Homo sapiens: one gene and its partners. The protein of the gene in region 1 interacts with the protein of each later gene in a pairwise test. Each region holds a gene or a part of one and is shown in the gene's direction. Other genes may lie near its edges.

Region 1 (4,664 bases):
CCATCTCTACTAAAAATACAAAAAATTAGCCGGGCGTGGTGGTGGGCACCTGTAGTCCTAGCTACTCAGGAGGCTGAGGCAGGAGAATGGCATGAATCTGGGAGGCGGAGCTTGCAGTGAGCCGAGATCGCTCCACTGCACTCCAGCCTGGGTGACAGAGCAAGACTCCATCTGAAAAAAAAAAAAAAATATATATATATATATATATATAAAGATTAAAGCCAACATGGATATATTATGGAATATAGGGTCAATTCATATGAAGTTTAAAGATCAACTACAAGTGATTTCAGGCCGTGGAGGCCCCTTTGGGCTATCTCCTGACTTTCCTAACATATCCATCTACTCTGTTCGGATACTATGGATAACCTTAGGAAATGTTTGACAAAGACCTCCTTATTCCTTTCTCTCTGCCCCTGAATATCTTTCCTAGATTATTTAAATGCATTTTTTTTGTTTTGTTTTGTATTTTGAGATGGAGTCTTGCTCTGTCACCAGGCTGGAGTGCAGTGGCACCATCTCGGCTTACTGCAACCTTCACCTCCCAGGTTCAAGTGATTCTCCTGCCTCAGCTTCCCGAGTAGCTGGGACTACAGGTGGGTGCCACCATGCCCAGCTAATTTTTTTGTATTTTTAGTAGAGATGGGTTTCACTATGTTGGCCAGGATGGTCTCTATCTCTAGACCTCGTGATCCGCCGGCCTCGGCCTCCCAAAGTATTGAGATTACAGGCGTGAGCCATTGTGCCCAGCCTTAAATGTGTTTTTTATGGCTCTCTCGGTTTGCACTTTTCAGCCTCTTTCAAAACGATCTCTTACCCCAGAAACTTCTTGTTCTCCAACTAGTTATCAAAGCCTCTACCTTTAAAATTCTCTCCTCTACAATTTTCTTAAGTAATATGTGGTGGTGGGGGGGAAGTATTACACGGACCCGTAAAACACAAATCGCTGTCTAATCTTTTCAGTCGTGTCCTCCATTGATTCTAATCATCCACCTTAAGGCTTCCAAGGCACAGAATGCTCCATCATTTGAAGATTCTTCTCTAAATGCAGAGGGAAAGACAGTCCACTGTGGCCTCTTAATGCAACTTCTTCCTCAAATCAATCCGTGTTTCTCCCTAGAAACGGCAGGTGGACCAGGACATGAGTATGTTTATGGGCCTGCAGAATTATGTGACACAAAAGAATGTCATCGGATGGATCAACACCTCAATTAATGAGGGCAGATACTTGGGCTGGACTGTGTAGCCTCTTTGAAGGCCTACCACAGAACTCTGATTTCATGGGTGGACTGTCTGCGGAGGAGTCCTGACTTAGCAAGAAGCCCAAGTAAAGAATTTTATGGGAGAAGGGACTCTTCAGAGGAAGGCAAATAACAGACTGAAGGAAAGGGCGTTTGAAAAGAAGTGAAGAAATAAAAAGAAAAAAGACATTACATACTGTGTCCACACCCTCTGCAGTGGGATATAAATGCTCCCTAGAGGAAGGAGACCCACAGCTCTGTGGCTTGGAGAATTTAGACTCTGTCTTCAGCCAGGCACTCCCTCCCTCCCTCCCAGCACTATGCCCTACAACTTCTGCCTGCCCAGCCTGAGCTGCCGCACCAGCTGCTCCTCCCGGCCCTGCGTGCCCCCCAGCTGCCACAGCTGCACCCTGCCCGGGGCCTGCAACATCCCCGCCAATGTGAGCAACTGCAACTGGTTCTGCGAGGGCTCCTTCAATGGTAGCGAGAAGGAGACTATGCAGTTCCTGAACGACCGCCTGGCCAGCTACCTGGAGAAAGTGCGTCAGCTGGAGCGGGACAACGCGGAGCTGGAGAACCTCATCCGGGAGCGGTCTCAGCAGCAGGAGCCCTTGCTGTGCCCCAGTTACCAGTCCTATTTTAAGACCATTGAGGAGCTCCAGCAGAAGGTGAGCGGCATTGCTGTCATCTCCAAGCAAGAGAGTTTGCTGTGATTCTGTCTGTGATAGAGAAGTGTGTTTCTTGCTTCTGTGCTGTCATAATTCTTGCTTCCTCTTTTATTTCAAAATGGCTTAAGTCATTTTTAAAAAGTTGATGATTTCATATTTATTTTCAGTCCTCACTAAGCCACCTCTCACTCCCCAGATCCTGTGTACCAAGTCTGAGAATGCCAGGCTTGTGGTGCAGATCGACAACGCCAAGCTGGCTGCGGATGATTTCAGAACCAAGTGAGTTGTTCGGAATTTGCACTAGTGTCAATTGCTTCTGTTTAATCTTTAAAGAAAAGGGATTTCCATCTGAAAACAGATCTACCCACTTGTTGTGAAGGATTCTGCAGAGGACTGGGGAGAACCAAGCAAAGAAATGCAAAAATGGATGAGGACTCACATCAATCTGTTTGTTTTGGGATGAATATTGGGTATTGATGGAGCCTCCAGAAACCTCTGTCTCCTGGGCCTATTCATTACAGAAAGTGGAAAGATAAGGCACATGAGGTTATCAAAAATCATTCCTGTGAGTCTTGAAGATCTACCAGGTAGTACTCTGACCCTGTCCTTGCGCAGGTACCAGACCGAGCTGTCCCTGCGGCAGCTGGTGGAGTCGGACATCAACGGTCTGCGCAGGATCCTGGATGAGCTGACCCTGTGCAAGTCCGACCTGGAGGCCCAGGTGGAGTCCCTGAAGGAGGAGCTGCTCTGCCTCAAGAGCAACCATGAGCAGGTGAGACTAGAAATGAGAAATGCACAAACCTGTCTCAGCCTCTGGCTCAGGGTTGCTTTAGTGATTTGGGGCAGCAGAATGCAGAGTATGAGTACAAGACTGAGGGTTTCCTTTGAAAACATCACGGTAAGAGAAAAATTGGAGAGAGATAAGACCTGTTCATGTTCCCAGACAGGAAACATCTTTCACTTTAAACTAGCACATTATTTGAGTTGCCCGGAGCAGCTCCATGTGCTTGCAGTTGATCAATAGTTGTAGAATGAGTCCTAGCATTGCAGTGTTATTGCTTTGTAAAGTCTTTTTTTTTTTTTTTTGGCAAAGGCCAAGAAAAAAAATATCAAACCTTATAAATGTGAGTCTCTACTCTTTCAAAGTATTGGTGAAGAGTGTTTGTGAGATTCTTCCTCTCTCTTGGGAGGGGCCATGACATGCTCTTACCTCTTACTTGACAGCAAGAGTTTTTTGATATATGGTCTGAAATTGCACAGCCTATTTTTTTTGGCATTCTGAGGTCCTCACAGCCAATTGTAAACTGGGAAAGTTGAATATCAATTAGTTCATCCTTCAGTGGCATCCAAGCAAACTTTTGGGATTTTTTTCTGAAGCCAAGTGCCATGGCACAGCAGATGGTGGGGAGGGGGCTATGCCACATGGAGTGCCTTGAGCTGTCACAAACTGCTCCACTCAAAGTTTCTTTTCCGAGAAAATAGACTAACAGGGTTTCAACAAGCAATGCCATTCCTTAGAGTTCATTCTTTGCTGAGCATAGTAACTCTTGTATTTTCTGCATCCATAGGAGGTCAATACCCTGCGCTGCCAGCTTGGAGACCGCCTCAATGTGGAGGTGGATGCTGCTCCCACTGTGGACCTGAATCGGGTGCTGAACGAGACCAGGAGTCAGTATGAGGCCCTGGTGGAAACCAACCGCAGGGAAGTGGAGCAATGGTTCACCACGCAGGTGGGCATCTAAGCACGTGGCCCCTCAGGACCCAAGGCCCCCCAGGGCCCCGGAGGCAGGGTCTGATCCTTTCTCCCCTTGGGTGTTTCAGACCGAGGAGCTGAACAAGCAGGTGGTATCCAGCTCAGAGCAGCTGCAGTCCTACCAGGCGGAGATCATCGAGCTGAGACGCACAGTCAACGCCCTGGAGATCGAGCTGCAGGCCCAGCACAACCTGGTGTGTATTGTTCAGACCTGCTGGTGAGCGACGGGAACTTGGGAGGCAGAGTCCCGGGGATGTGCTTGGGGCCACACACTCTCCTTAGCTCTTGGAGCTTGTGACTTCCTTGTAATCCTGTGAAGAAACCCTTTGAAGGAGCAGCTCTCTGACATTCCCAATCTTCTCCACCACAGCGAGACTCTCTGGAAAACACGCTGACAGAGAGTGAGGCCCGCTACAGCTCCCAGCTGTCCCAGGTGCAGAGCCTGATCACCAACGTGGAGTCCCAGCTGGCGGAGATCCGCAGTGACCTGGAGCGGCAGAACCAGGAGTACCAGGTGCTGCTGGATGTGCGTGCCCGGCTGGAGTGTGAGATCAACACATACCGGAGCCTGCTGGAGAGCGAGGACTGCAAGTGAGTACATGGGCAGACGTGTTTGATGAAATGATGCACGTGTGAGTGTAACAGTTAGACACCATGCAAATATTGCATACCTTGGAAAGGAAATTATGCCTTCACACTAGACATGCTCAAACAGAACTCAGACAACATAATATGGCCATCATTTAAAACATAAATGGTTTGGTAGCAAGAGTTGTTTGATGTACAAACTGAAATTGCACTGCCAAGTCTTTGCATTCTAGTATGATAATATGCATGACTGCATGATATGTGATCAATGCCTTACTTTTTACAATACTGTATTGCCTAGTGGGTACATTCCCATAGGCTACCTGATTTGATCTTATAATTACCACCAGGTGGGCTGGATCAGTATTCCCTCCATTCTACAGGAAAGTAAACTGGGGCTTGGAGAAGGTAAAT
Region 2 (4,137 bases), about 12 Mb from region 1:
GATGTTATTTTTACTAATGTAATTAATCAACAGAGCACCAAGATTCTTTCATGGTGAAAAGGGTGGGCTTCTGTTTTGGTATCTTAAAATGTTTCTTTTAAAATATACATCACCTGTGTGAGAACCAGGACCACCTGGGAGAGTGATGAATCATTGGCTCCACTCAAAAGCATTGCTTTACTGAGTTTTAAATTTCACACTGTTTTGCCGCTCAAGAAAGGTCTTAAAGTAGTTAAAGGATGCCAGCAATAGTGCGAATAGAATTTTCGGTTGTCTGCATAATAAAAACACCCATTGCAGCATGATTGGTATGTTGCTCTTGCATTATTGGGAATGGTAAATCAGTTATGGGCTAGAAACTATGGAATGGCCGTCCTCATATGTGATGGGATTGCTGATTCAGACTTCCCTATTTTCCATACAATTTTGTTATGTGCAGAGTTCTAAAGCCATTTTATAATACTGCAGTATCCCCCCCCCCCCCACCTTTTTTTTTTTGAGACGGACTGTCTGTTGCCCAGGCTGGAGTACAGTGGCGCAATCTTGGCTCACTGCAACCTCCACCTCCCTGGTTCAAGCAATTCCCCTGCCTCAGCCTCCCATGTAGCTGGGATTACGGGCGCACACCACCACACCTGGCTAATTTGTATTCTTAGTAGAGACGGGGTTTCACCATGTTGACCAGACTGGTCTCGAACTCCTGACCTCAGGCAATCTGCCCGCCTCAGCCTCCCAAAGTGCTGGAATTACAGGTGTGAGCCACCGTGCCCGGCCAAGTATCTCTTTTCTACAGCCTTATTAAACTAACTACAAACATTTATTTTCCAATTTAGTTTTACTTTCAGTGCATATCAAAGTTGTTGTACTCTTCAGACCAACAAATTAACTTGAGGGCAAATTACATAGCTTTCCATGTACCCTTTTTTCCTCAGGTGCTAATCAAAGGCTCTGAAAATGGATACTGCTTTAGTGATGTCTGCTTTATTCTTAAAATGCTTATTTCTTTTGCTAGATGTAAAGATTTGGTGTTAACAAAAGTGGTTTTAATATGTAAATATGAATGAATGCCTTTAGTTTACCCTGTTTGTCTATTATTAATCTGTTTTCATTTATCCTTCATAGAGGAGGATCCTTTCATGATCTTGAATACATTTCATTAGATATTGTTGCATTTTAAGAATGAAAATACAACTGTTTTCTGTCTTAGATTAATCCTGCTGCTATGAGAAACTGAAAATCAAGAATGTGATGCACTTTTTACATTACTATATACCATACATATACCATAGGTTGCTTTGATACCTTTCCTGTAGCACAGCCACTAACAAGAGTGAATGAATTATAAAATTCTTTTTGGGAGGGAATCAATACAAGTAACTAATTCTTAGCTGATATTGTCCTATGAAGGACAATAACTTAGGAATATAAGAATTCTGTTAATAGTACACTTTTTGGCCTTAAATGTCTTCTACTACTGAAAATAGTTTAAATCTTAGCTTTGTTTCTATTATTCCCTCTCTCTGCCTCAGAAAGAGGAATTGGGAAGAATGGCTTAAAGGACGTGGTGTCATTGATTTGTTGCTGATCTTTTAGAAAACATTTGTCTATGTAAGCTGGGGACTTATTTTTTGTTTGTATATAGAGGGGAAATAGTGCTGCCCTGAACCAATCAGATTTAGTTTAAATCAAATCAATCAAAACTCCAGCTGTTTCTCTTGTCTTTTTACTTAGCAAAGGAAAACTTTAGTGAATGCTACTTGACAAGAAGAAAAGTCATTTCTCAAGCACATACCCAAACTTGAAGGTGATTGAACCCAAAATAATGGGTGGGAAACACCAAATGAGGTGGAGGAATGAGAAAGATGTGTGGGCCAAAGCTATCTGGTTATATTTTGATGTTGCCAATATCGCAAAGCCAAAATTTTAATTTGCTTATTTAATATATTTGTTGGCCAGAGATCTATTTTTATATCAATGTGCCTTGCATGTATATTAAAAAAAAAAAATTGGAAACGCCATGTAGTAATGCCTGAGATAGTCGATGGTTCTTACCACCTCACTAATTTTTATGCAGTATGAAATGCTCATTCTATTGCCCAACTGGTGCTCTCTGTTTAAAGTTACAGATCTTGCGAAACTGGAACTATTTTATAAGCTGGGGAAGTGATTTACTTTTTTTGTTGTATCTTTTTTGTTCTTAGTCTGTTAGTGGCTGTCCTGTAGTGGGAAATAGTAAAAGGATTCTTCACTCCCTTCTCCCCTCAGCACCTTCTTCAAGTAAACATTTCTTGTGTGCTTTGAAAAAAGTTTCAGCTTGCTGTCTCTTTTAGTGTTTTAAAGAAGTGTTATACAAAGCATTGTTTGCAAAATATAGGGAGATAATGGAGTCCACTTTAATTTGGAATTCTGTGTGAGCTATGATCCAAGTTATCAGCTCTTTCCAACTTTAAAAATTTTGTTAAAAGCACCTTGCTTAGAAAATTTTAAATATTTATGTCTGCAACAATTGTCTCAAAATAATAAACTGTGCAATTCTTGTCATTAAAAAAAAAAAAGATCTGAATTTTCCCTAATGTGACTTGTTAGTTTCTCTCTGTATTTCCTGCCAGTGTAAATGTGAAAGCTTTGCTTGCATTACGTTTTAGAAATGCATTTTGCACACTCGAATTTTGCCGAAGCTCCGTGAAAAGGTTAGATCTAAGTAGATGAATAAAGCTATGCACATGTTTTGAAAGTTTAATTTGTGTGTCATTACCAAAAGTGACCGATTTGTCCTTACTACTTTGCTGTTGTTAGCTTTACCATCTTTGGAAACTTGGCTCAAAGTTACATAGTTCTGGGCTAGCTCATCAGTGGAACTAGGAGAGAGGAAAACTGGCACCTATTTTAATAAAGTTCAATTTAAACGAGAGCTTGACTTGTATCTATTAAAGAGCTTTTCTTGAAACAGGGCAGTTTTATCAGCTTTACAAATCATTGGATGCTCTTCCTTAGTAATATTTTGGTTTATTTGATCAAATAGAAATGGAAAGTAATTCAAACTGAAAGACCCTTTTTTGTCATATGGAACTTGGTGACGATTTTTTGTCTTAAAGCTGGTTTAAAGGTAGGATAGGCTTTTACCTTTATTGCTTTAGCATAAATTTGGTTTACTGAATTGACTGGCTTGAGATTAGAATTATTCAGTTGTTTGTAAGATCAAAGCACTGGTTGTTTTAAAGATAACGTGTATCTTTTAAAAAATTGCCCAAGCTGATTAGAACAAGTTTAGGAGTTGGGTACATTTGGTTCAAGTGCTGCAATCTGTATGTACTAAATAGCTTTACTTTGTGTATGTGTACTTATAATGTGTAGATGTACTACTACCCAGGTTTTGTCAAATCATCTTTTTTAAAGTTTTTTTTTTTTTAATTGGTTCAGGACCTTTGTAGGAGAGGCTAATATGTTTAAGTAGAAGATATTACTGATAGCATTTTCCCCATGCTCCTACATAAAAAATAAATATTTCCATTTTATAGCTTTTTCAATATACAGAAGAGGGTTACTTCTTCATCAAGTATATTGTTGCCTTTGAGGACACAGCAAAACCCTTCTATATGTATCTTCATTGATAGTGGCAGTTAAAAACTAAGTTATCCAGTTAAGACTTAAAAGGTGACCCATATTAATTGCATGGCCTTAAAAGGCAGAAATGCAGGAGTGTAGCAAGCATCATTTTAGATGGCTATGGTTCCTCTTCCGCATCTGTCAGTAGTTCACTTATGTTCAGTCTTAGAACCTACTGGAGGAGTGAAGTAATTTCTCTGTCTCGTGCAGAGGCACTAAGGAGCTGAGTTACCTCTTAATCTGGGGGAATGGATAATAAGTGGAGTACAGTTATGTTAAAGGATGTTCCCCCCGCTCAAAAAAAAGTTTCAATGTTTGTTTTGCCCAGTCAAAAATATAGGTCTTTTCTACATATAAGAACAGTCACCAGAAATTTTCCCTTTTGCTAAATGCTTAGGTATTTGCTATAGCTGTTTCTGATGTCATGGATTCTGAGGAAGTGTCATTTACGTGATGATCTTCCTTTATTGATGTCTTCATCATGTTCAGTGTTTTAAAAATATAAATTACAAACACTCTACAACCATACCC
Region 3 (4,137 bases), on another chromosome or scaffold:
GTGGCTCACGCCTGTAATCCCAGCACTTTGGGAGGCCAAGGCGGGCCGATCACAAGGTCAGGAGATCTAGACCATCCTGGCTAACATGGTGAAACCCCGCCTCTACTAAAAATACAAAAAAAAAAAATCAGCGGGGCGTGGTGGCAGGCGCCTGTAGTCCCAGCTACTCAGGACGCTGAGGCAGGAGAATGGCGTGAACCCGGGAGGCAGAGCTTGCAGTGAGCCGAGATCGCGCCACTGCACTCCCGCCTGGGTGACAGAGCGAGACTCTGTCTCAAAAAAAAAAAACAAAAAAAAAAAAACGTCATTTTGGCCAGGCGCAGTGATTCATGCCTGTAATCCCAGCACTTTGGGAGGCCAAGGTGGGCAGATCACTTGAAGTTAGGAGGTCAAGATCAGCCTGGCCAACATGGTGAAACCCTGTCTCTACTACAAATACAAAAATTATTAGCTGCGTGTGGTGGCAAGTGCCTGTAATCCCAGCTACTCGGGAGGCTGAGGCAGGAGAAGCATCACTTGAACCCAGGAGGCGGAGGTTGCAGTGAGCTGAGATCGCACAACTGCACTCCAGCCTGGGCAACAGAGGGAGACTCTGTCTCAAAAAAATAAATAAATAAAAATAAATCATTTTTTAACTTTAGGAAGTGTAACATGTCCAACTTTACTGAAATATTCCTTTATTATTTCTTAACCCCAAAGGGTGTTCCGTTTTTGTTTTGTTTTTTGTTTTTAACTAAAATTTCATAATCAGCATGCCTAGGACTTCCTGCAATCAGTGATTTTAAAGCCATGCCACTGAACACACAATTTCCAGTGAGACACTTTGGGGGCTGATTTGTGTTTCTTTGACCATCTTTGTAAATTACATTCCAGGCTTGTCTATCAAAACACACCAAGCAGCAATGCATTTGACATGAACAAGCACAATCCATTCCCCTCCGTGTTCTTTGAAACATGTGTTTAACATTAGCACTTTTTTCTCCATAGCTGCAGCTACAACAGGGGTTTAAGTTTTAATCACAACAGGGACAGCCTGCCAGCAACAGCACAGGTCTGAGGTGGCCACAAATCTGTCTGGTCTCACACCTCTGAGCCTCACTTTACCTCCACCCACTGGCCCTAGTAGCTCATCCTACCTCTCCGCTCCCACACCCCCCCGCATACCGCTTCTCATCCCTGTAACAGAATTTGCCAACTAGAAGCACCTGGTCAGCGAGATGACATGGGAGGGGTCAGGGCAAGGGCAACCTGGAGCTAGCTCCCTATGAGGGGTCGCCAACTCAGCTTGGAGGTTTGGAGATGCAATATTAAATGTCTTGAGGTTGTTATGAGATGGAGAAAAGGCTAAGGTAAGATGATGGGGAGCCCTTGGCGGGCATCCACCTTACCTCCCACCCCCCAATTTTGGCTGTTGCCAGCAAAACCTGGGCTTCCAGACCATCCAGGTAGACCATCAGCAGGCTGAAGTCTTCATCGTGGAGCAGACTGTCCACGCGGAGGAGGGCATCCCCATGTCCTGCCAGTACTACCTGCTCTCCGATGGGTGAGCTGCTGATGGTGGGCCCAGAGGGGTGGTGCTGAGCTTGTAGGTGCTCAAGGAGACCGGCTGCTTCTGGGGATAGCACCAGGAAGAACTGGCATTGAGATAGGAGTGTCCCTCCGCTTTATCCATATCATTCACTCTTTCTTCATTTATTTGCTCGTCCTCTTAACCCTCACAGTGCCTCCCAAACCTTCTCACTGCACACCACAGGCCTGGGGTGTAGCTAGTGCAGCCACCACTGTGTAAGGGATAATACTGAAAAACACCAAGGTCTGAATGACTGCACACTTGATGAAATCACTGTGCTGGAAGAATTGCCTGTGGCAGGCTGCCGTGCAGTCTCCAGCAAAGCACTGGCTCCAAATCATAAGAAAATTCAGGGCTGGGCGTGGTGGCTCACACCTGTAATCCCAGCACTTTGGGAGGCTGAGGCGGGCGGATCATGAGGTCAGGAAATTGAGACCATCCTGGCTGACACGGTGAAACCCCATCTCTACTAAAAATACAAAAAATTAGCCAAGTGTGGTCGTGGGCGCCTGTAGTCCCAGCTACTCTGGAGGCTGAGGCAGGAGGATGGCGTGAACCCAGGAGGCAGAGCTTGCAGTGAGCCGAGATCGCGCCACTGCACTCCAGCCTGGGTGACAGCAAGACTCCGTCTCAAAAAAAAAAAAGAAAGAAAAAGAAAATTCAGGTGGAAGAAAGAGTTTCTTTCTGTTTTTTTGTTTTGTTTTGTTTTTTTGAGACAGACTCCAGTCGAGTTTATTTCTTAAAATTTCAGAATAGATATTCACATAATCACTACACTGGGGAAAAGGTAATCAAAACATTGTTGGCTTTATCTCATAACTTAGTATGTTTTCGGTTTTGGTGCGATCATAGCCCACTGCAGCCTCCAACTCCTGGGCTCAAGCAATCCACCTGCTTCAGCCTTCCTAGTAGCTGGGACTACAGGTATGCACCACAGCTCCAGGCCAACCTTTTTATTTTGAATGCCGCATAGCAGGAGATTCCATAATTTTTCTTTTCTTTCTTTCTCCTTCCTTCCTTCCTCTTTCTCTCTTTCTCTCTCTCTGTCTCTTTCTTGACAGAGTCTCGCTCTGTCACCTAGACTGGAATGTGTGGCATAATCTTGGCTAACTGCAACCTCCGCCTCCCAGGTTCAAGTGATTCCCTTGCTTCAGCCTCCCAAGTAGCCGGGACTACAGGTGCCTGCCACCACGCCTGGCTAATTTTTGTATTTTTAGTAGAAACAGGCTTTCACCATGTTGGCCAGGCTGGTCTCAAACACCTGACCTGAAGTGATCTGCCCATCTTGGCCTCCTAAAGTGCTGGGATAACAGGCGTGAGCCACTACAAGTGTGAGCCACTGCGACAGGCCTCTTTCTCTTTTTGAGACAGTCTCGCTCTGTTACCCAGACTGGAGTACAGGGATGCAATCTTGGCTCACTACAACCTCCACCTCCCAGGTTCAAGTGATTCTCATGCCACAGCCACCAAAATAGCTGGGATTACAGGCGCCCACCACCACGTCTGGCTAGTTTTTTGTATTTTTAGTAGAGACGGCGTTTCACTATGTTGGCCAGGCTGGTCTCAAACTCCTGACCTCAAGTGATCCACCCATCTCAGCCTCCCAAAGTGCTAGGATTACAGGCGTGAGCCACCGTGCCTGGCCAAGAGGCTCCATGATTTTCGAGTGCTGTACCTCTAAAGATCCTTTTTGTTTTTTTTAAACAGGGGGCCTAATACTTGCCAAGCCCTGTGCGTTATTTGGAGATCCAGAAATGAACACCACCCAGGAACTTAATAAACAAGAGAGGGAGGCAGAAGTAAAGAGGCCCGGGACAGGTCTCTCAAGGGGCACTGTCATGTAGGAGTCTGCTTAGGCTGCCATAACAAAACACCACAGGCTGGGTGGCTTCAAGAGAAATATATTTGCTGGAAGGCAGGAAGTCCAAGATCATGGTGCCATCAGGGTTGGTTTCTGGTGAGGGCTGTCTTCCTAGCTTGCAGACAAGTGCCTTCTCAATGTGTCCTCACATGGCCTTTCTTCCGTGCATGAGTGAAGAGAAAGCTCTCTGGCATCACCCTTTTCTCATAAGGGCACTAATCCTATCTGATTCGGGCCCCACCCTTATGACTGCATGTAAACGTAATGACCTCCCCAAAGCCCCTACCTCCAAATACCACCACACTGGGGGTTAGAGAGACAATTCAGTCCATAGCAGGCGGTCTGGGAAGATTCTCACTCTCACATGTTGTGTTGCACTCCAGGCACCTGGCCAAGAGAATACAGGTGGGCTCCCCAGGGTGCTGCATCATCACCAAGATGCCCATCTTGAGGGAAGAGGGTGAGTGAAGCCCAGGCCTTGTGCAGGCAGGGAGAGTTAAGGGGAGTGGGGAAACCTGGGCCTTCCAGGATGCAGGGGGCTGGACCCAGTGTGCTGTAAACGGGACAGGAGCCTGGAATCAGCTGGAGAACATCTGCCCTCCAGCCCCTGACCCCAAGCAATAAGAGGAGGATCTTTCCTACTGGAAGTCCCTTCCTGCAACTCTGCCCATGTGGGCAGAATCCTGGGGTTTCACCTGAGCCTTCT
Region 4 (4,137 bases), on another chromosome or scaffold:
AAACTTGAACACTTGTCACTTCAGAAGTGGTCAGTGGATGTTGGCATTATTCTCTTGAGGTGGTCACCCTGGGTTTTAAGTGCTAGGCATTGAGCCAGTGGCACCCCTTAGAGTGGGGATTGGTATTCTATGACCACAGATGTGTTAGGCAAGACTTTCCTGGAATTAGTGATAAAACCAAACTCAAATGGCTTAAGGGAGAGGGGATTTATTGGCTCACATAACCAAAAACTCCAGGGATAACTGCCCAGAGGGAAATGAGGGAAAAAAAGGAAATACTCCCTTCCTGGGATCTCCCACTTCCCAGTTTGCCAAGGAAAACTGAGCCCCAGGAGGACACTGAGGCAAAGTCTCAATACTTTCTCCCCCTCCTCTCTGAAAAGAGAATAAAATGAAGGCTTGGCACACACACCATCTCCGAGACAGTGCTAGCTCCTGCCTCCTAGGAACTGATTCCAAGGTGAACTGCTGGTGGTGGAAGAAGCCCTTCAATATAGCATGTATTGATTGCACTTGATGTACAAAAGAGGACATAGATGCTGAGGGACATAAAGATGAACAGAGACCTTGTCTCCAGAGTTCACAATCCAACGGAGGAGGGAGACTTGACATCAGTATTCTAGTAGGAAGGCAACCTGTGAACCAGGCACATTTAGTTTCAACCTCAGCTCTGCCATTTACTCTTAAAATTTCCAAACCTCTGTGTCTTCACCTGAAAAACAGGCTTAATAATATTTGCGTATATAGGTGATTGTGAAGACTAGAAATGGGGTATAAAAAGCGCTTTGACTGGGTGTAGTGGCTCATGCCTGAAATCCCAGCACTTTGGAAGGTCCAGATGTGAGGATCACTTGAGGCCAGCAGTTCAAGGCCAGCCTGGGCAACATATGCAGACCTCTGTCTCTACCGAAAAAAAAAAAAAAAGTTTTGGCCGGGCATGGTGCCTCAGGCCTGTAATCCCAGCACTTTGGGAGGCCGAGGTGGGCGGATCGCCTGAGGACAGGAGTTCGAGGCCAGCCTGGCCAACATGGTGAAACCCTGTCTCTACTAAAAATACAAAAATTAGCTGAATGTGATGGTGGGTGCCTGTAATCCCAGCTACTTAGGATGCTGAGGCAGGGGAATCACTTGAACCCAGGAGGTGGAGGTTGTAGTGAGCTGAGATCATGCCACTGCACTCCAACCTGGGTGACAGAGTAAGACTCCGTCTCAAAATAAAATAAAATAAAATAAAATAAAATAAAATAAAATAAAATAAAATAAAATAAATAAAATAATAAAATAAAATAAAATAAAATAAAAAACAGTTTTAATTAAATAAACCACCTCCTACAGTGACCGGCATATGGTAAGTGTGCAATAGTAACTAGTGACTTTTTAATCATTTACACTGCTTGTGACAAATGCTATAATAGAATTACCCCAAGGAGATTTTATTTTCACCAGATTTCAGATTTCAACCCCTTTATTCTAATATCATGGATTTGTTCAACAAACCCACATTTCCCCTGCACACCATTATGACCACTATCCCTTCTAAGCCTTGCCCTCTCCATGTCATGGACCATTTTTCATGACCCTTCTTTGAGCCCTCTCCTCTCCCAGAGCAGACACGCTTAGGTGATAGGCACACTGCAGCCAGGACACTGAGTCTTTGATGGAAACCATGATAAATTGGCAGCTTCTGCCCTGGGGTGGCAGACTAAGTCCCTGCAAACCCTGCAAACTGTCTAGCATTGTGGGAAGCACTTGGGCTTTGGAATCTGATGGAGATGGATTTGAACTCCAAGCTCTTGTTCAGTGTGGGTCTTTTGGCAAGTTACTGAATCCCTTGAGCCTCAGTCTCCCTGTCTGTAGAAAGAGGACACCAATACCTAATGAAGTGGCTAAGAGTATAACTGCATGGGTTTGAATTCCAGTTCTGCCAGCTGTGACCTTGGGTGAGAAATATCTCAGGGCTGCAGGAGTTTTCATTTGTAAAATGGGTATATGAGTAGTTGTTATGGTGGTTAAGCAAATGATATGTAAAGTACTTTAGCTCAGTGCTTGGCACATAGTATATAAGTTTTAGTTATTACTGAACTGAACAGTGTGTGTAGAGAACTCAGCCAGGATGGGGTGAGGACAAGCAGAGAGGTGGGGAGCAGTCCTCTGGCCCAGTTTTGGTTGGGGTGCAGAAAGACACACTGCCACTCTACTCTATCCCAGGTGCTGTCCCACAACCTGTACACGGTCCTGCACATCCCCCATGACCCCGTGGCCCTGGAGGAACACTTCCGAGATGATGATGACGGCCCTGTGTCCAGCCAGGGATACATGCCCTACCTCAACAAGTACATCCTGGACAAGGTGGGGCCCAGCTTGTAGGGAGCATCTGTAACCTCTCCCCACTTTTCCAGCCTGGCCAGCAGCCTAATACCTTGCCACTCCAACTCTTCGCCCCTGCCATAAACTCCTACTTCTGCCTGCTCTGTCCGTGACTGCTGTCCCATCACGTCCCTCACATCCCAGCCACCTGCCCCCTTCCTGTCCCCCTCAATTCACCTTCAATGTCCCTCATCTCTAATGAGGTGGGCCCCACCCTACCCATAACCTTCCACCGAATCCCTGCCCGGCCCTCCTCCAGCTTCCAGGGTTCTCCACCCTTCCCAGACTGTCCCCCTGAACTCCCCCTCCAACTCCTCCAATCTGTCACTGTGTTTCCAGGTTCTTGGCTCTTAGCTTCCTGCTGGGTTTCTCCTTCTTTGTCCTCTGGGCTGAAAGACTAGAGTTAATCTGTTGTCAGGGGGCCTGGGTGGGTGTGGGTGTGTTGTGGAGGGTGGAGTGGTTGGAACCAGCTAGTTACCTGGTAATCAGCTCAGGGATCCCTTGAGTTAGGGCCCTGGACTTGGCCAGGTGGGGAGCAGGGGCATAGATGAACCCAAGAAACCCAGCTGGAGCCTAGTGTCGTGGTAGAGCTGAGATATGCAGTCAGCTGATTTGCAGCCCTGGTGGCAGGTGGAGGAGGGGGCTTTTGTTAAAGAGCACTTTGATGAGCTGTGCTGGACGCTGACGGCCAAGAAGAACTATCGGGCAGATAGCAACGGGAACAGTATGCTCTCCAATCAGGATGCCTTCCGCCTCTGGTGCCTCTTCAACTTCCTGTCTGAGGACAAGTACCCTCTGATCATGGTTCCTGATGAGGTGAGGGTGATGGCAGCCCCAGGGACTGAATCACTTGGGACCAGACCTAAGCAAAACCATGAATGAGACCAAACCACCTTTGGTGCCTTCCCATATCCCCTTTCTTTCTTTACCATCTTCCCATGCTGGTATCTGTCCTCACCCAGCTGTCTCCAGATGCCTAGAACTGCCTGTGTCAGAGTAATTTTGCCTTCTTCCAGGAAAACTGAAATTACACTTTCATGAGGGTTCTGCTGGTCCTCACTGTAGGAAAATGATCTGCAAATTCTGTTTACACAGAGGTCTAAATGCCAGATACATTACTGAGCATTACTGGCAATCTAGGAAGGGTGCTTTTTTTTCCTTTACCTTTTGCCACTTCTTCCAGGACAGGAAGGATGCTTTACAAGGCAAGGGGAGACCTTTCTGAGACAGGAGGTTACTCTGGTTCCAGATTTTCCCTTTCTGCCTTTCTTCTGGAAAGCCAGGACAAACTCAGCTAAGAGACCCAGGGATAGGGCATCCTGGGAGAAAAGGCTGGGAATCTGGTCCCTATCTCCTTACTCCTGGGTGAAGCCAGGGAAGGCATTTTCCCATCCACCTGTACCCTCCCTCTTATCCTCACTTCCCTCCCCTGCCCATTTGGCCTTGTGACCCTTTAGTCCTCTTGGTGGCTGTGGAGATGCCAGGGTGACTTTAGGTCTTTAGAGTGGGGTTTACAGGAGAGGGGGCTTCTGTACTTACAAGAAGCCCTAGCATGTCAAGCTCCACTCACATTTGTCCTGGCTTCTGTTTGTGGGAAGGGTGATGAAGGGAACCACCCGAGCCCTGAACCAGTGCCCTCTACTAAACACCCAAACAAGACCCAGGATCCCCCAGAAAGTCCTAAACAGAGTGTCCCAAAAAGCTGCTGGGGCAGGTGAGGGACATGTGTCCATCTGCACATACACTTGGCTGGCTGCCCTTGTTAGACCC
Region 5 (3,834 bases), on another chromosome or scaffold:
AACACACAGAAAAAAAGACCTTCATAGAAACAGAATTATAGAGAACAGAAAAAAATTTCATTGAGAATGATAATTAATATCCTTAGAGGCCAAGCGTGGTGGCTCATGCCTGTAATCCCACCACTTTAGGAGGCTGAGGTGGGAGGGGTGCTTGAGACCGGGAGTTCTAGACCAGCCTGGGCAAAATAGATCCCTTCTCTACAAAAAATAAAAAATTTAGCTGGACGTGGTGGTGCATGCCTATTCAGGAGGCTGAGGTAGGAGGATTGCTTGAGCCCAGGAGTTTGAGGCTGCAGTGAGCTAGGATCGTGCCACTGCACTCCAGCCTGGGTGACAGACGGGTCTGAAAACAAAACAAACAAAAAAATTCTTAGGTAACGTTGTAGCCATGAAATAAGAACATTAGGCTATAAAAAAGTTTGAGAATCAAAATGAACTCTTAAAAATTAGCAAAAATTTAAATCAGCAAAAATTTAGTAATTACATTAGTGGGTTAGAAGATAAAGTTGAAATATGAAAAGCAGGAAAGGTAAGAAAATAAGAGTCAATCTATAACGTTTATAGCCATTACAACAGAAAAGGGAAGATAGGAAATAAAGAATTAATGTAAGAAAACGTCCCAGACCTGAAGGACGTGAGTTTGTAGAATGAAAAGAATTCACTTAATACAGCGCAAATGAATAGGAAGAGTTCACATCAAGGCACAAAAGAATGCATGTTGGAAGGCCAAAGCTAAAGAGAAGATTTCAAAGACTTCAGAGAAAAGGTCGCTTACAAAGGTGCAGGAATTAAAATACTGTCATACTTCTCACTGATAGCACTAGAAGGTAGAAGACAGTAGAGCAGTACCTTTGCAATAGCTAGGGAAATATTGTCCAACTCAGAATTCTCTTCCTTTCTGAACCATCAAGTGAAGGGTAAATATAGGCTAATGACATCTCCCATGCACACATTCTCTGTAGTCATTATCGTCATAGCTGACACTTAAGTAGTGCTTACTGTGCTTCCCTTCAGTACTTTACAGCCACAATATGAGATGGACACTCACATTTCCCTGTTTTGTAAGTGGGGAAGAGGCGTAGAGAAGTGAGTTCTCAAGGTCACATGGCTAGTCAGTGGTAGAATTGGGATTGGAATGTGGGCAGTCTTGACTCTACCTGAGGATGTCCTCCATCCAAAGAAAAAGATCCAAGAGCTGAGATCCACCACAGAGCAAGGCGAGAGGAATCCCCAGGCTGGAGCTGCAGGGATGTCATGCTCCAGGATGGTAGCAGTACAAGTGGGTCCAGGTTAGAGTAGATGGTTGAAGGACTCCAGGAAGAAATGGAAGAGCTTATATTCCCTGGCATGTCTGATCAGATCCTGAGTGATGTTTGGGCATGTGAGGGTAGTCTCATGTTGGAGAATGGATTAGAAAAACAAAACAAAAAGGGGAAAAAAACTTATGAGAGGTCATCATCATAATATGTTATGTGGGTTTGCTTTGAACGATATTTGTGTAGCCTTTATAAGGAAAACCCTGAATATTGATTTCACTAAAAATGTGGTTTGGGGAGGATGTGGGAGAAAGTGCTTTTGAGGCGTGTGCGTGCATATGTGGGGCCAGTGGACAGTGGTGTAAGAGTGAGATATCCTCTGCTTCATAGTAGGAAGTCAGGAGATATCACTAATATCTGGTGGAAAAACCAAGCACTGTCAGTATAGTATTTAGAAATGTGGCAATAAATGCCAGAGGAAACACTTAAAACGTTTGAAAAGGGTTGCCTGTGGAGAGCTGGAATTAGGATTTGGAAAGAGTGAGGTAGAGGACTGCTATTATTTGATACAAGAATCGTGTGATTTTTTTTTTTTCCCCTCAAACAGTGTACACAGAAAACCCGGAATTATCCTTGGCTTTTTTCTTCCTGTCACAACCCATATCCTATCCATGTCAAAGCTTGATGGTTCTATATTCAAAGTATGTCTGGAGCCCGATCCCTTCTCACCACCTTCCTTGCTGCCACTGGGTCCAGCCACCACCTCTCATCTGAATTATTCCAGTGTCTTCTCTCTGGTCCCTGAGTTTCTCTTATTGCTCCTCTCCAGTTTCTTAGCAGCATTCCCCAGACTGATCCAGTTCACATACAGTCAGATCGTGTTGCTCTGTTGTTCAGAACCCTGCAGGGGCTTCCTAGTTCACAGAGTCCAAGCCAAAGTCCTTCAGGTTGCCCCACACGTCCACTTACCCCACTTGCCTGCTTTATTTTCTCCAAAGCACTTAGCATCGTTGAAAATTTTTTTTTATGAATTTATTTTGTTTCTTGCCTGTCTTCCCTTACCACAATTCGATCTCAGGAGGGTGGGATTTTTTCTGGCTTCTTCGCTACTGTATTTCCAGAGCCTAGAACAGTATGTATAGTAGGCACTGAATAAACATTTGTTAGATAAGGGTATTGCCTTTATATAAATAAAAAGCCAATTAAAAATACCACAAGTTTTTAAGCCATTTGCCATAAGCTAAGCTAAGCAGCTCATTGTTTTACTGGCTTAAGCATCCATAAGCAGTTTGAAACTGAAATCCTGAGGGGTCTAATTGAAAAGATTTGTTTCCATCTGGAAAATAACGATATTCTGTCCTGAGATTACACACCTATCTCTGCCATGCACTCTCAAATCTTTTTTACAAAAATGTATCATACCGCTCTGTGGTAACTACTTATGACTAAAACAATTGAGTTTCACAACCCTTGGCAGCTAAGATTTCAGGGAGAACACTAGTATATGTTTTTAAATCATAGAATCTGCTTAGTGAGTATAAATAGGCATCACACACGTCTTCTGTAAGGAGCACACACCTAAGATTCCAATTCTTCTGACATGGGGAAAACCACCTCCAAGGCAAACCATCAGTTTGCCTTCCGCTTGCGCATAACAATTCTTGCCATGCTCTGCTGCTGAGTGAAGCTATTTGTATTTCATCAGGGTGTTCTCTTGCCTGACTTTGCCCCTCTTCTCACCTATTCCTTCAGGAACCTTAAGATGCCAAATTAGTGCTATCATCTATATTTCCATGGCTACCGATCAAAGTTCTGCATACACATGATTAGAATTCACAGCAGGATAAGCTGGACTATGTGATGGAATGGTCTTTATCCCAAAGCAAATACCTGATTACACAGGGAACAACAACAACAAAAAGGAGCCAAGTGAATGACGTGTGCAAAAGCCCTTCTTGTGAATCAGTTGAAAGATAACCTCCCTCCACACCCCTAATTCCTAAATCTCATAATGTGGGCAATCCTTGAATCCACCAAGGACTTTAAATACTTCACAGTCTTGTTTCTCTGATGTGGAATCTGTTAGATTATGGCTCCATTCATAGAAGTATGTCATTTGTCCCTTAATATCCTCAGGGATTGGTTCCAGGACCCTGCAGATACCAAAATCTGGATGCTCAAGTCCCTGATAGAAAATGACATAGTATTTGCATATAATCTATGCACATCCTCCTGTATACTTTAAATCATCTCTAGATTACTTACAATACCCAACACAATGTAAATGCTATTTAAATAGTTATTATATGATATTTATTTGTATTATTTTTAATTCTTTTTTTGTTGCCGTTTTTTTCTGAATATTTTTTAACCAGGGTTGGTTGAATCCATGGACACATAACCCATGGATACTGACTGTGATTAATATTTGTGTTGTCTGCTTACTATGGGACCAATGAGATTTTGCAGGGATTTTTGTGTTGTTTGTTTGTTTTGGTGATTTTATTGAGCTTAACAGGTGTTAAGTTACGTAGATTTCAGTAAGACCTTTGGCAAAGTCTTTCCTTGTAAACAAGGA
Region 6 (4,137 bases), on another chromosome or scaffold:
CTCACTTCTCCAGGGAATGTTCCAGGGATTTTGCTCGGCTTTAAGCTCCTATGTTGCTCTTTGCCCTGCTTGAAGTGAGCTCCCAGGAGGAGTTGCCCTGGGCTCTGCAGAGGCTGGGAGGGGCAGGAAAGGGAAACAGGACTGCCTTTCAGCAAGCCCAAGCCTTGCCTTCATGCTACAGCTTCATTATTTTGTTTGACAAGGATTCCCAGAATAGCGAACAGCTAGACACACCCATATTTAAATGTTAACACCAAAGCGCATTCCAAACAAGAAATCGAATTGTATTTCTGTTTTGATGACTTGGATAATCCACACTTGAGCTTTTCTCTATTCATGTGGATAATGAGGAGTTGGCCAGGCTCAGATCTCTGACAACATGGCTGTGGAATTGTGACTAAATGTCCTCTGCCTGATCCCTCTCTAGTTTGTAATCATTCTTAGTTTTTCTCCACTGAAAAGACCACATTCTCCTTAAATGGCTGGAATGGCAGAGTTGTTGCTTCTCCCCCAGGTGTGGGGCTTGACGCTTCCAAGAGCTGAGCCTTGTCGAGGAAAAGGCTCAAGTGACAGATGTGCTGAAGTGCCTTTGTGTGGAAAGTGGCGTTAGGTGGCTCTGAGTGCTGGTGACAGGAGAGCAGGTGCCTCGAGGTAGGAGGGGAGGCAGACAGGATGATAGAGCATTGGGCATTGGGTGGAAGGCACAAGGCAGGAAATTGAGACAAAAGGAAGGAGTGAGCTCCAAAGGCAATCCGATGTTTGCCAAGTGGCTGCATTGAGCCTTCTAGCCTTGCTAGTGGTTGATGCTTTTTGTACCTTTCCTCTAAATCGCATCAATCCTTGTTAAGCAACTGGAGATATTTTGGAAAAATCCACAAGAAAGAGAAAAAACAGAAAAGCAACATGAGGTGAAAAGTGCTAGGAAAAAAACAGGGGTCTGATGAGTCTAGTCCAGTAAGTCAGGGCTGCTCAAAGATTAATGTGGACTGAAGATTGGCTCTGACCCCCAAAACTCTCCCCTTCCATCTCCCTTCCCAACTCATTTCAAAGAAGAAAGAGGGTTTATTGTCCCGGCTGTCTTGAACTCTCTTGATGCTCTTTGGATGAAACAGAATAGATCATATGAGCCTGTGCAGCATAGTAAGGCAGGATGCGACTTTCTGCCGTTATTGCCGTTGGACATGCATGGATGTTTATCTGTATGGCTGTATGTGTGTATGTAGACAGATGTGTGTATGCCTGCATAAGAAATCACCTTTCCAGAGGCTCAATCCTGTTAATTCATCTAGCTGTCCTGGATAACTTAAAATATATTTTCTTAATAATGTCAAAACTAATCTTCCAATTCCACTTAAAAGTCAATAGCATTGCTGGGTGTGATGGCTCATACTTGTAATCCCGGCACTTTGGGAGGCTGAGGTGGGCAGATCACTTGAGGTCAGGGGTTCGAGACCAGCCTGGCCAACATGGTGAAACCCCATCTCTATTAGAAATACAAAAATTAGCCGGGCATGGTTGCGCACGGCTGTAATCTCAGCTACTCGGGAGGCTGAGGTACAAGAATTGCTCGAACTCGGGAGGTAGAGGTTGCAGTGAGCTGAGATCGCACCACTGCACTCCAGCCTGAGTGATGGAGTGAGACTCTGTGTCCAAAAAAAAAAAAAAAAAGGTAAAAAATAAAATAAAATACATAAAAATAAAAATAAATAGCCAGATGTGGTGGCACACATCTGCGGTCCCAGCTAGTCAGGAGGCTGAGGCAAGAAGATTGCTTATGCCCAGGAGGTAAAGGCTGCAGTGAGCCATGATCATGCTACTGCATTCCAGCCTGGGTGACAGAGCAAGACCTTGTCTCAAAAAAAAAAAAAAAAAAAAAAAAAAAGGCAAGAGTGTTAGATCAAGTATACAACAATTTTGGCTGATATGAAACACATGCACAGCACTCAAAAGATAAAGCTAAACCTCTTCAGATTGCACAGGTATTTATCAACCTGAGAGACAGCATTTTTGGCATCTAGCTTTGTTCAGTAGATCCTGTTATTTCTCTGTTATTAAGGAAGAGATCATTTTAAAGGTAGCCATGATGTGAGTCTAAGTGTTGGAAGCGCAACCTAAATAAATGAAATGACAGTTTAGCCCCCAATATCTTTTAAACCAATAGTTCCATCTTCTTCTCCTTGTAAACTTACTGCTGAAACTAATGAAAAGTAGAAGAATTGACTAATTTGGCTGTGCTTTTCCTTCCCTTCCCCATCAGTGTCTGATGGAGATGCTATAATTAGCAATGTAATGAGAATTGAAGGGTAAACAAGAAGAATTATTCCCAGAACACACATCAAGGGTTAGAAGACTGGAACAGGAAAACCAGCCTGAGATGAAAATATTTTCTCTGCCCAACCAACGGGCATCTATACCTAGAGTTCTATATACAGATCTTTCTAGGCAAAGACAAGGGAAAGAGTGGTGGTCACATTGCTTTCAGGAAACTGGTTTATGCCTAGACTCTTAACACCTGTTGCTTTGCAAAACTAGTGTGAAGGATTGGTTCTCTGTTTATCTGGGATTCAACTGAGCAGAACTCCCAAATATTAAATCTGTATTTTTCTGCACTTAACTTGTAAAGATAAATAATTGGCAAATATGCTTCTATTGGAAACTTATTTTTAAAAAAATTAGAATAGTTTTAAAAGATTTAGAGGTAGAAGGCTCTTTGCATACCTAATGTTAGTTCAGTCGTCTTCATTTTATTCATGAAGAGAATGACACTGAGAGAGGTCACATCATTTGTTCTAAATGTCGGATTAAAGCCAAGATTCCTGAGATCCAGCCTAGTACTTTTTCCAGGGAATTCAGTGGACAAGGAAACATTATTCTGCCTATATCAGCAATACTTTATGATAAGAACTGTTCTTCGTGAAGAGCCTGACTTCATGAAGAGAGCCTGTCTAACTCCTGAAGTGCTTCTGAATGTTTTACTTTTTCTCCCTAATCTATTTGTTTTTTTTAAAAAAGTAACTCTTTTTTCTGAGCTAGCTGGAATATTCATACCTGACACCCCATCTCCCAACCATCGAGGATGAATGGAGATTCCCTTTACATGCTCCCCACTCTCAGCATTGACATCATATGACTTGGTTGATCTGTTCTTAGCAGAAACCAACTTGTCCCTTCAAAGCCAGCTCAGAAGGCAGGATGTCTTAGGTCCAGGCTATCAGGATGTACCATTGCTCTTCCTTTTCACTGTGTTTTAGGTAAAGTCCACCTCAAGTAAAATTTGTCTAAGCCTTTACTTTATAACTCCTCGATTGTTACTTTTTTTTTTTTTCTTTTGAGACGGAGTCTTGCTCTGTCTCCCAGGCTGGAGTGCAGTGGCGTGATCTCGGCTCACTGCAAGCTCCGCCTCCCAGGTTCACGCCATTCTCCTGCCTCAGCCTCCCGAGTAGCTGGGACTACAGGTGCCCACCACCATGCCCAGCTAATTTTTTTGTATTTTCAGTAGAAACGGGGTTTCACTGTGTTAGCCAGGATGGTCTCGATCTCCTGACCTCGTGATTCACCCGCCTCGGCCTCCCAAAGTGCTGGGATTACAGGCATGAGCCACGGCGCCTGGCCCTCGATTGTTACTTCTGATGGTATTCTTATGCTTGCTTGGTTTATGCCAATATGAGAAAATAAAATTTTCAAATGGTTCACATGTGTCAATGATTACTTACGTACAGGGTGATAGCTATTTTTGTTCTTGGTGATGAAGCAAATGTTTCAGAAACCCGACTGAGCTTATATAAGAATCCTGTTACCAGAATGCAACTGTTATTAAAAATACAGAAATAATCAGAATCACTGGAGTTAACTCTTTCTATAATTACAGACAAGGATAAGGAATAACCCTATTGCCTGCACACAAGTAGCCTAACCAAGTGTTCTTGAGGGTTTTCTTGTTTTTGTGTTTTGAGACAGGGTCTCACAACTGTCACCTACCCAGGCTTGAATGCAGTGGCACGATCATAGCTCACTGCAGCCTTGACCTCTTGGACTCAAGCAGTTGTCTTGCCTCAGCCTCCCGAGAAGCTGGGACCACAGGCGTGCACCACTACGCCTGGCTAATTTTAATTTTTTGTAGAGATAGGGGTCTACTAT
Region 7 (3,268 bases), on another chromosome or scaffold:
GAGAGGGTTGAGGCAGACAGCCTCAGTAAAAGCTGGTGGGCAGTACGGAAGCTGGGGTCTGAACTCCTGGGTCCCTGAGGGGATAGGAGACTGGGACCAAGACATTTAGGTCCCCAAGTGGGAGTGTGAACAGAAGTCAGAGAACTGCATTGAGAATCACATTCCGGGTCCCCCAAAGGAAAGGAGTCATGGCGCCTGAGTCCCTCGGGGAGCAGATGCTGGGTGCCAGGAGGCTAAGTCTGTGTGTCTGCAGGGCACAGCGGGGTTCTAAGCAGAGCAAACGCTGGGGAACAGGATTCCTAGGTGCTGACGGGGTGAGGGCTACCACCTGGGGCCAGCAGAGGTGTAGACACGGACAGGCTTCCCGAACGGGGTGGGAGCTGCATCCCCGGGTGCCATGGTCCCCACGGCGACCAGAATAGGAAAATTCAGAAGCCCTGGATCCTCAGGGAGCAGCTGGAGTCCCAGGAACCTGGGGTGCCGAGGACGGGGCCACGAGCCTGGCCGGCAGAACCCAGAGGCTGGGGCGCCCTGGTCGGGGAGGGCCCGGGTATTCCCGGGTCAAAGGCGCGGCGGGGGGATCCCCGCGCCGCCTGCGCCCCCTCCCTGGTGGCGGCGGCAGGAGGTGGGGGGAGGCGAGGCTGCCGAGCGCGCTGACCATGGACAGCTCCAGAGCGGGCCTGTGTCCAGGGCGGCCGCCGAGCCTGCCTGGACCGTGGGACGCAGCCGGCTGTGCAAGCCCGAGGCTGGCGACGGGAGACGGAGTGCGCGAAGCGGGGACGATGCGGACGCGTCTGGGGAGTCTGGCACCGCCGCGGCGGGTGTCTGGAGCTCCCAGGACAGGGTCAGGAAGGGGGATCTAGGCTCTAGGAGGGGTCCCGGGGCCGGACCGGGAAATCCAAGCTCCTGGGCCCTGGAGGAGGCGCGAGGCGGCGGTGCGCCCGGGATTCTAGGGTTCGGTCGGGGACTCTGGGCGCCGGGAGGGGCACGCCTGAGTCCCCGGGGTTGGGGTGTGAAATCTGGGCTCGGGGGTCCCCTGGGATGAGGAAGGGAATCCGGGATCTCGGGGAGGCGGGGGAGGCTCGCCAAGGGGTCCCCAGGGTGGGCGCTGCCAGGAGGGCCGGGCCGGGCTCTTACCTGCCTGGTCCGCGGCGGCTGCGGGCGGAGCTGGGCTGCAGGAGGGACGTGGGGTGGAGTGGGGGGGCCGGGCGGGGCCCCTGGCAGCGGCCGGGGCCCGGCTCTGTCGCTTCGGAGCCCTGGAGCCCTGTCTCCGACGCTCGCGCGGGCTCCGCGTCTCTGGCTCCGGCTTGGGCGCTGGGGACCCCCCTCCCCCTCACGCTCTCACTGCCTTCTACCCCCAAAATAGCCCCCTGCCCCTGTCACCGATCAGCCTCCCCCCGCGAGGCCGCAGCCGCCAGATCCAGGGGTGCCCACCAGCGCCCCCCAAATCCCACCTTCCCCCCAAAAAAATTCCTCCTCCCTCCCCCTCCCCCCCCACGGCTCCCGGGCGGTCGTGGCCCCTTTAACAGGAGACTGACAGACGGCGAAGAGCGGCCAATGGGAGAGAGCGTCGGCGCCGGCCGGCGACTAGACCCCGCCTCCACACCGGCCGGGAGGGGTCGCGCGGGCGGAGAGCGAGAGGCGGGGCATAAGGCGCGTCGACCAATAGGCACGCGGCGTGAGGCGGCTGGGGCGGGAGGCGGAGCCCGGCAGGGGGATGATGTCACCTGGAGCGAGTAGCGCGCGGCGTGGAACGCGAGTCGCGACCCCGGCTCCCGGCAGTGGCGCGCACTAGCCCTCGCGCCGCACGGGACACGAGGGCTGGGCGGGCAGCGGGATGAGGCTAAAGGTTGGATTTCAAGGCGGGGGCTGCTTCCGGAAAGACGCGCTGTGTTTGGAAGGTGGAGTGAGCGCCCGGTGGGCGAGGGCACCTCATTCTGCACCCCTGCGCCCGCCTCGGGAACTGCACGCGGCACCCCCACCCGCGACTCCCACGCAGACAGTAGTGCGGCCTGCAGGGTTCCCCCGGCGGACGAGGCTAATGGTTCGCTCCGCCCCGCCCACACAGAGGCCGCCCACTGGCTCCGGCTGCGTTTCAGGACTCTGGAGGAAGGGACTTGGCCTTCGCCCTCAGACGCTCTTAAGGGTAGGCAGCGTTGTCCTCAGTTCTGCCCCAGCACTCAGACCCAGACTGGGTCCCTGCCTCCGCCCTCCGCCCTCGGACTAGTCTCTTGGAAGCCGGCCTGTCTCCGCCTTCAGACCTAGGGAGAGGTCTTAACCTCTGTTCTCAGACTCTGGAAAAGGCTTCTCAACGGCTTGGCCTGACCTCAGCTCCTCGCATTCCCTCCACATCTCAAGACACCAACCCAGGGATGCAGGACAGACACACAGACACTCAGTGAGGGTCAAATATCTTTAAATAAAGTGCCAGGAACAATAAATACTGTACAGGAAGAGAGTGCACGTGAACGTCCAGATCTGTGGTTTCAACCTCGAGACTCCAAGGACCTGCAAGGGGGGTGGACAAGGGACCCGGGATCAGGGAGGCTCCGGGTAGACAAGAGGGGCAGGACTGGGGTTGCAGAGGCAAGGGCCCAGGTAAGTGGGCTGAGGGATCCCAGCCACAGTAGGTTCCGTATCTTGGGATGGAAGGAAGCTAAGGGCTCCCCAGGGGATTTGGCCAAACTAGCCTGGGGTGAGAGCCTGGGCCAAGGGTCAAGGGTCAGGATCCCAGAGGAGGGGCCAGGGCTGGAAGATCCAGGAAGCACTGGCCTGGTTTGGGAGCCTGGGGTTAAAGGGAGCCCGTGGAGGCCCCAGGGGTGTGGTGACCCAGGGGCTCACGAGTAGCTCTGATGCTGTTGGCGCCGGCGGGCAGAGCGCATCTTCTCGAACCGGGCCTCCATCTCCTCCAGCACTCGCGGTGTGTAACGGACAACCAGCTTCACCGAGCCCTGGGCCGCCTTCAGCAGCTCCACCGCCTTCTCATGCTGCTCACCCTCAACGCTCTGCAGGGCCCAACACAGACAGCTGAGCCTGGGGCCCGCTGCCCTCGTCCAGCCCCCACTGGGAGATGGGACCCACTGCTAGTGAGCCTGGTGCCAGCCCTGAGATGTCAATGCCTCATGTCCTCCTCGTGGGAGTCATTAACTCCTGGTTCAGTGTCCTCCTCCAAAACCTCCCAGGATTCCCATGTCAGGGACAGCCCCGTGTTCCCTCAGTCCCTGGCCAAACGTCCAGACCCATCTTTGTGGCCTCCCTGCCCACAGCC

Evidence for each region.
Region 2: the proteins of KRT31 (region 1) and NUFIP2 interact in binary tests that used the Homo sapiens proteins (3 or more experiments, as listed by UniProt).
Region 3: the proteins of KRT31 (region 1) and CATIP interact in binary tests that used the Homo sapiens proteins (3 or more experiments, as listed by UniProt).
Region 4: the proteins of KRT31 (region 1) and DEF6 interact in binary tests that used the Homo sapiens proteins (3 or more experiments, as listed by UniProt).
Region 5: the proteins of KRT31 (region 1) and PRPF18 interact in binary tests that used the Homo sapiens proteins (3 or more experiments, as listed by UniProt).
Region 6: the proteins of KRT31 (region 1) and KIAA1217 interact in binary tests that used the Homo sapiens proteins (3 or more experiments, as listed by UniProt).
Region 7: the proteins of KRT31 (region 1) and C19orf73 interact in binary tests that used the Homo sapiens proteins (3 or more experiments, as listed by UniProt).

What each region holds. Positions count from the first base shown.
Region 1 is NC_000017.11:41,394,437-41,399,100, reverse strand, and holds the start of KRT31 (keratin, type I cuticular Ha1), read left to right. Parts: upstream 1-1,492; 5' UTR 1,493-1,561; coding exon 1,562-1,909; intron 1,910-2,105; coding exon 2,106-2,188; intron 2,189-2,524; coding exon 2,525-2,681; intron 2,682-3,477; coding exon 3,478-3,639; intron 3,640-3,730; coding exon 3,731-3,856; intron 3,857-4,032; coding exon 4,033-4,253; intron 4,254-4,664.
Region 2 is NC_000017.11:29,255,937-29,260,073, reverse strand, and holds part of NUFIP2 (FMR1-interacting protein NUFIP2), read left to right. Parts: 3' UTR 1-4,137. UniProt on the Homo sapiens protein: Binds RNA.
Region 3 is NC_000002.12:218,363,210-218,367,346, forward strand, and holds part of CATIP (ciliogenesis-associated TTC17-interacting protein), read left to right. Parts: intron 1-1,418; coding exon 1,419-1,543; intron 1,544-3,455; exon of another isoform or gene 3,456-3,589; intron 3,590-3,717; exon of another isoform or gene 3,718-3,814; coding exon 3,815-3,891; intron 3,892-4,137. UniProt on the Homo sapiens protein: Plays a role in primary ciliogenesis by modulating actin polymerization.
Region 4 is NC_000006.12:35,307,462-35,311,598, forward strand, and holds part of DEF6 (differentially expressed in FDCP 6 homolog), read left to right. Parts: intron 1-2,208; coding exon 2,209-2,349; intron 2,350-2,997; coding exon 2,998-3,183; intron 3,184-4,137.
Region 5 is NC_000010.11:13,624,965-13,628,798, forward strand, and holds part of PRPF18 (pre-mRNA-splicing factor 18), read left to right. Parts: intron 1-3,834.
Region 6 is NC_000010.11:24,215,177-24,219,313, forward strand, and holds part of KIAA1217 (sickle tail protein homolog), read left to right. Parts: intron 1-4,137. UniProt on the Homo sapiens protein: Required for normal development of intervertebral disks.
Region 7 is NC_000019.10:49,117,592-49,120,859, reverse strand, and holds C19orf73 (putative uncharacterized protein C19orf73), read left to right. Parts: upstream 1-1,716; 5' UTR 1,717-1,837; coding exon 1,838-2,227; 3' UTR 2,228-2,458; downstream 2,459-3,268. Other genes in the region: LIN7B (protein lin-7 homolog B), read right to left, coding at 2,487-2,508, 2,842-3,005.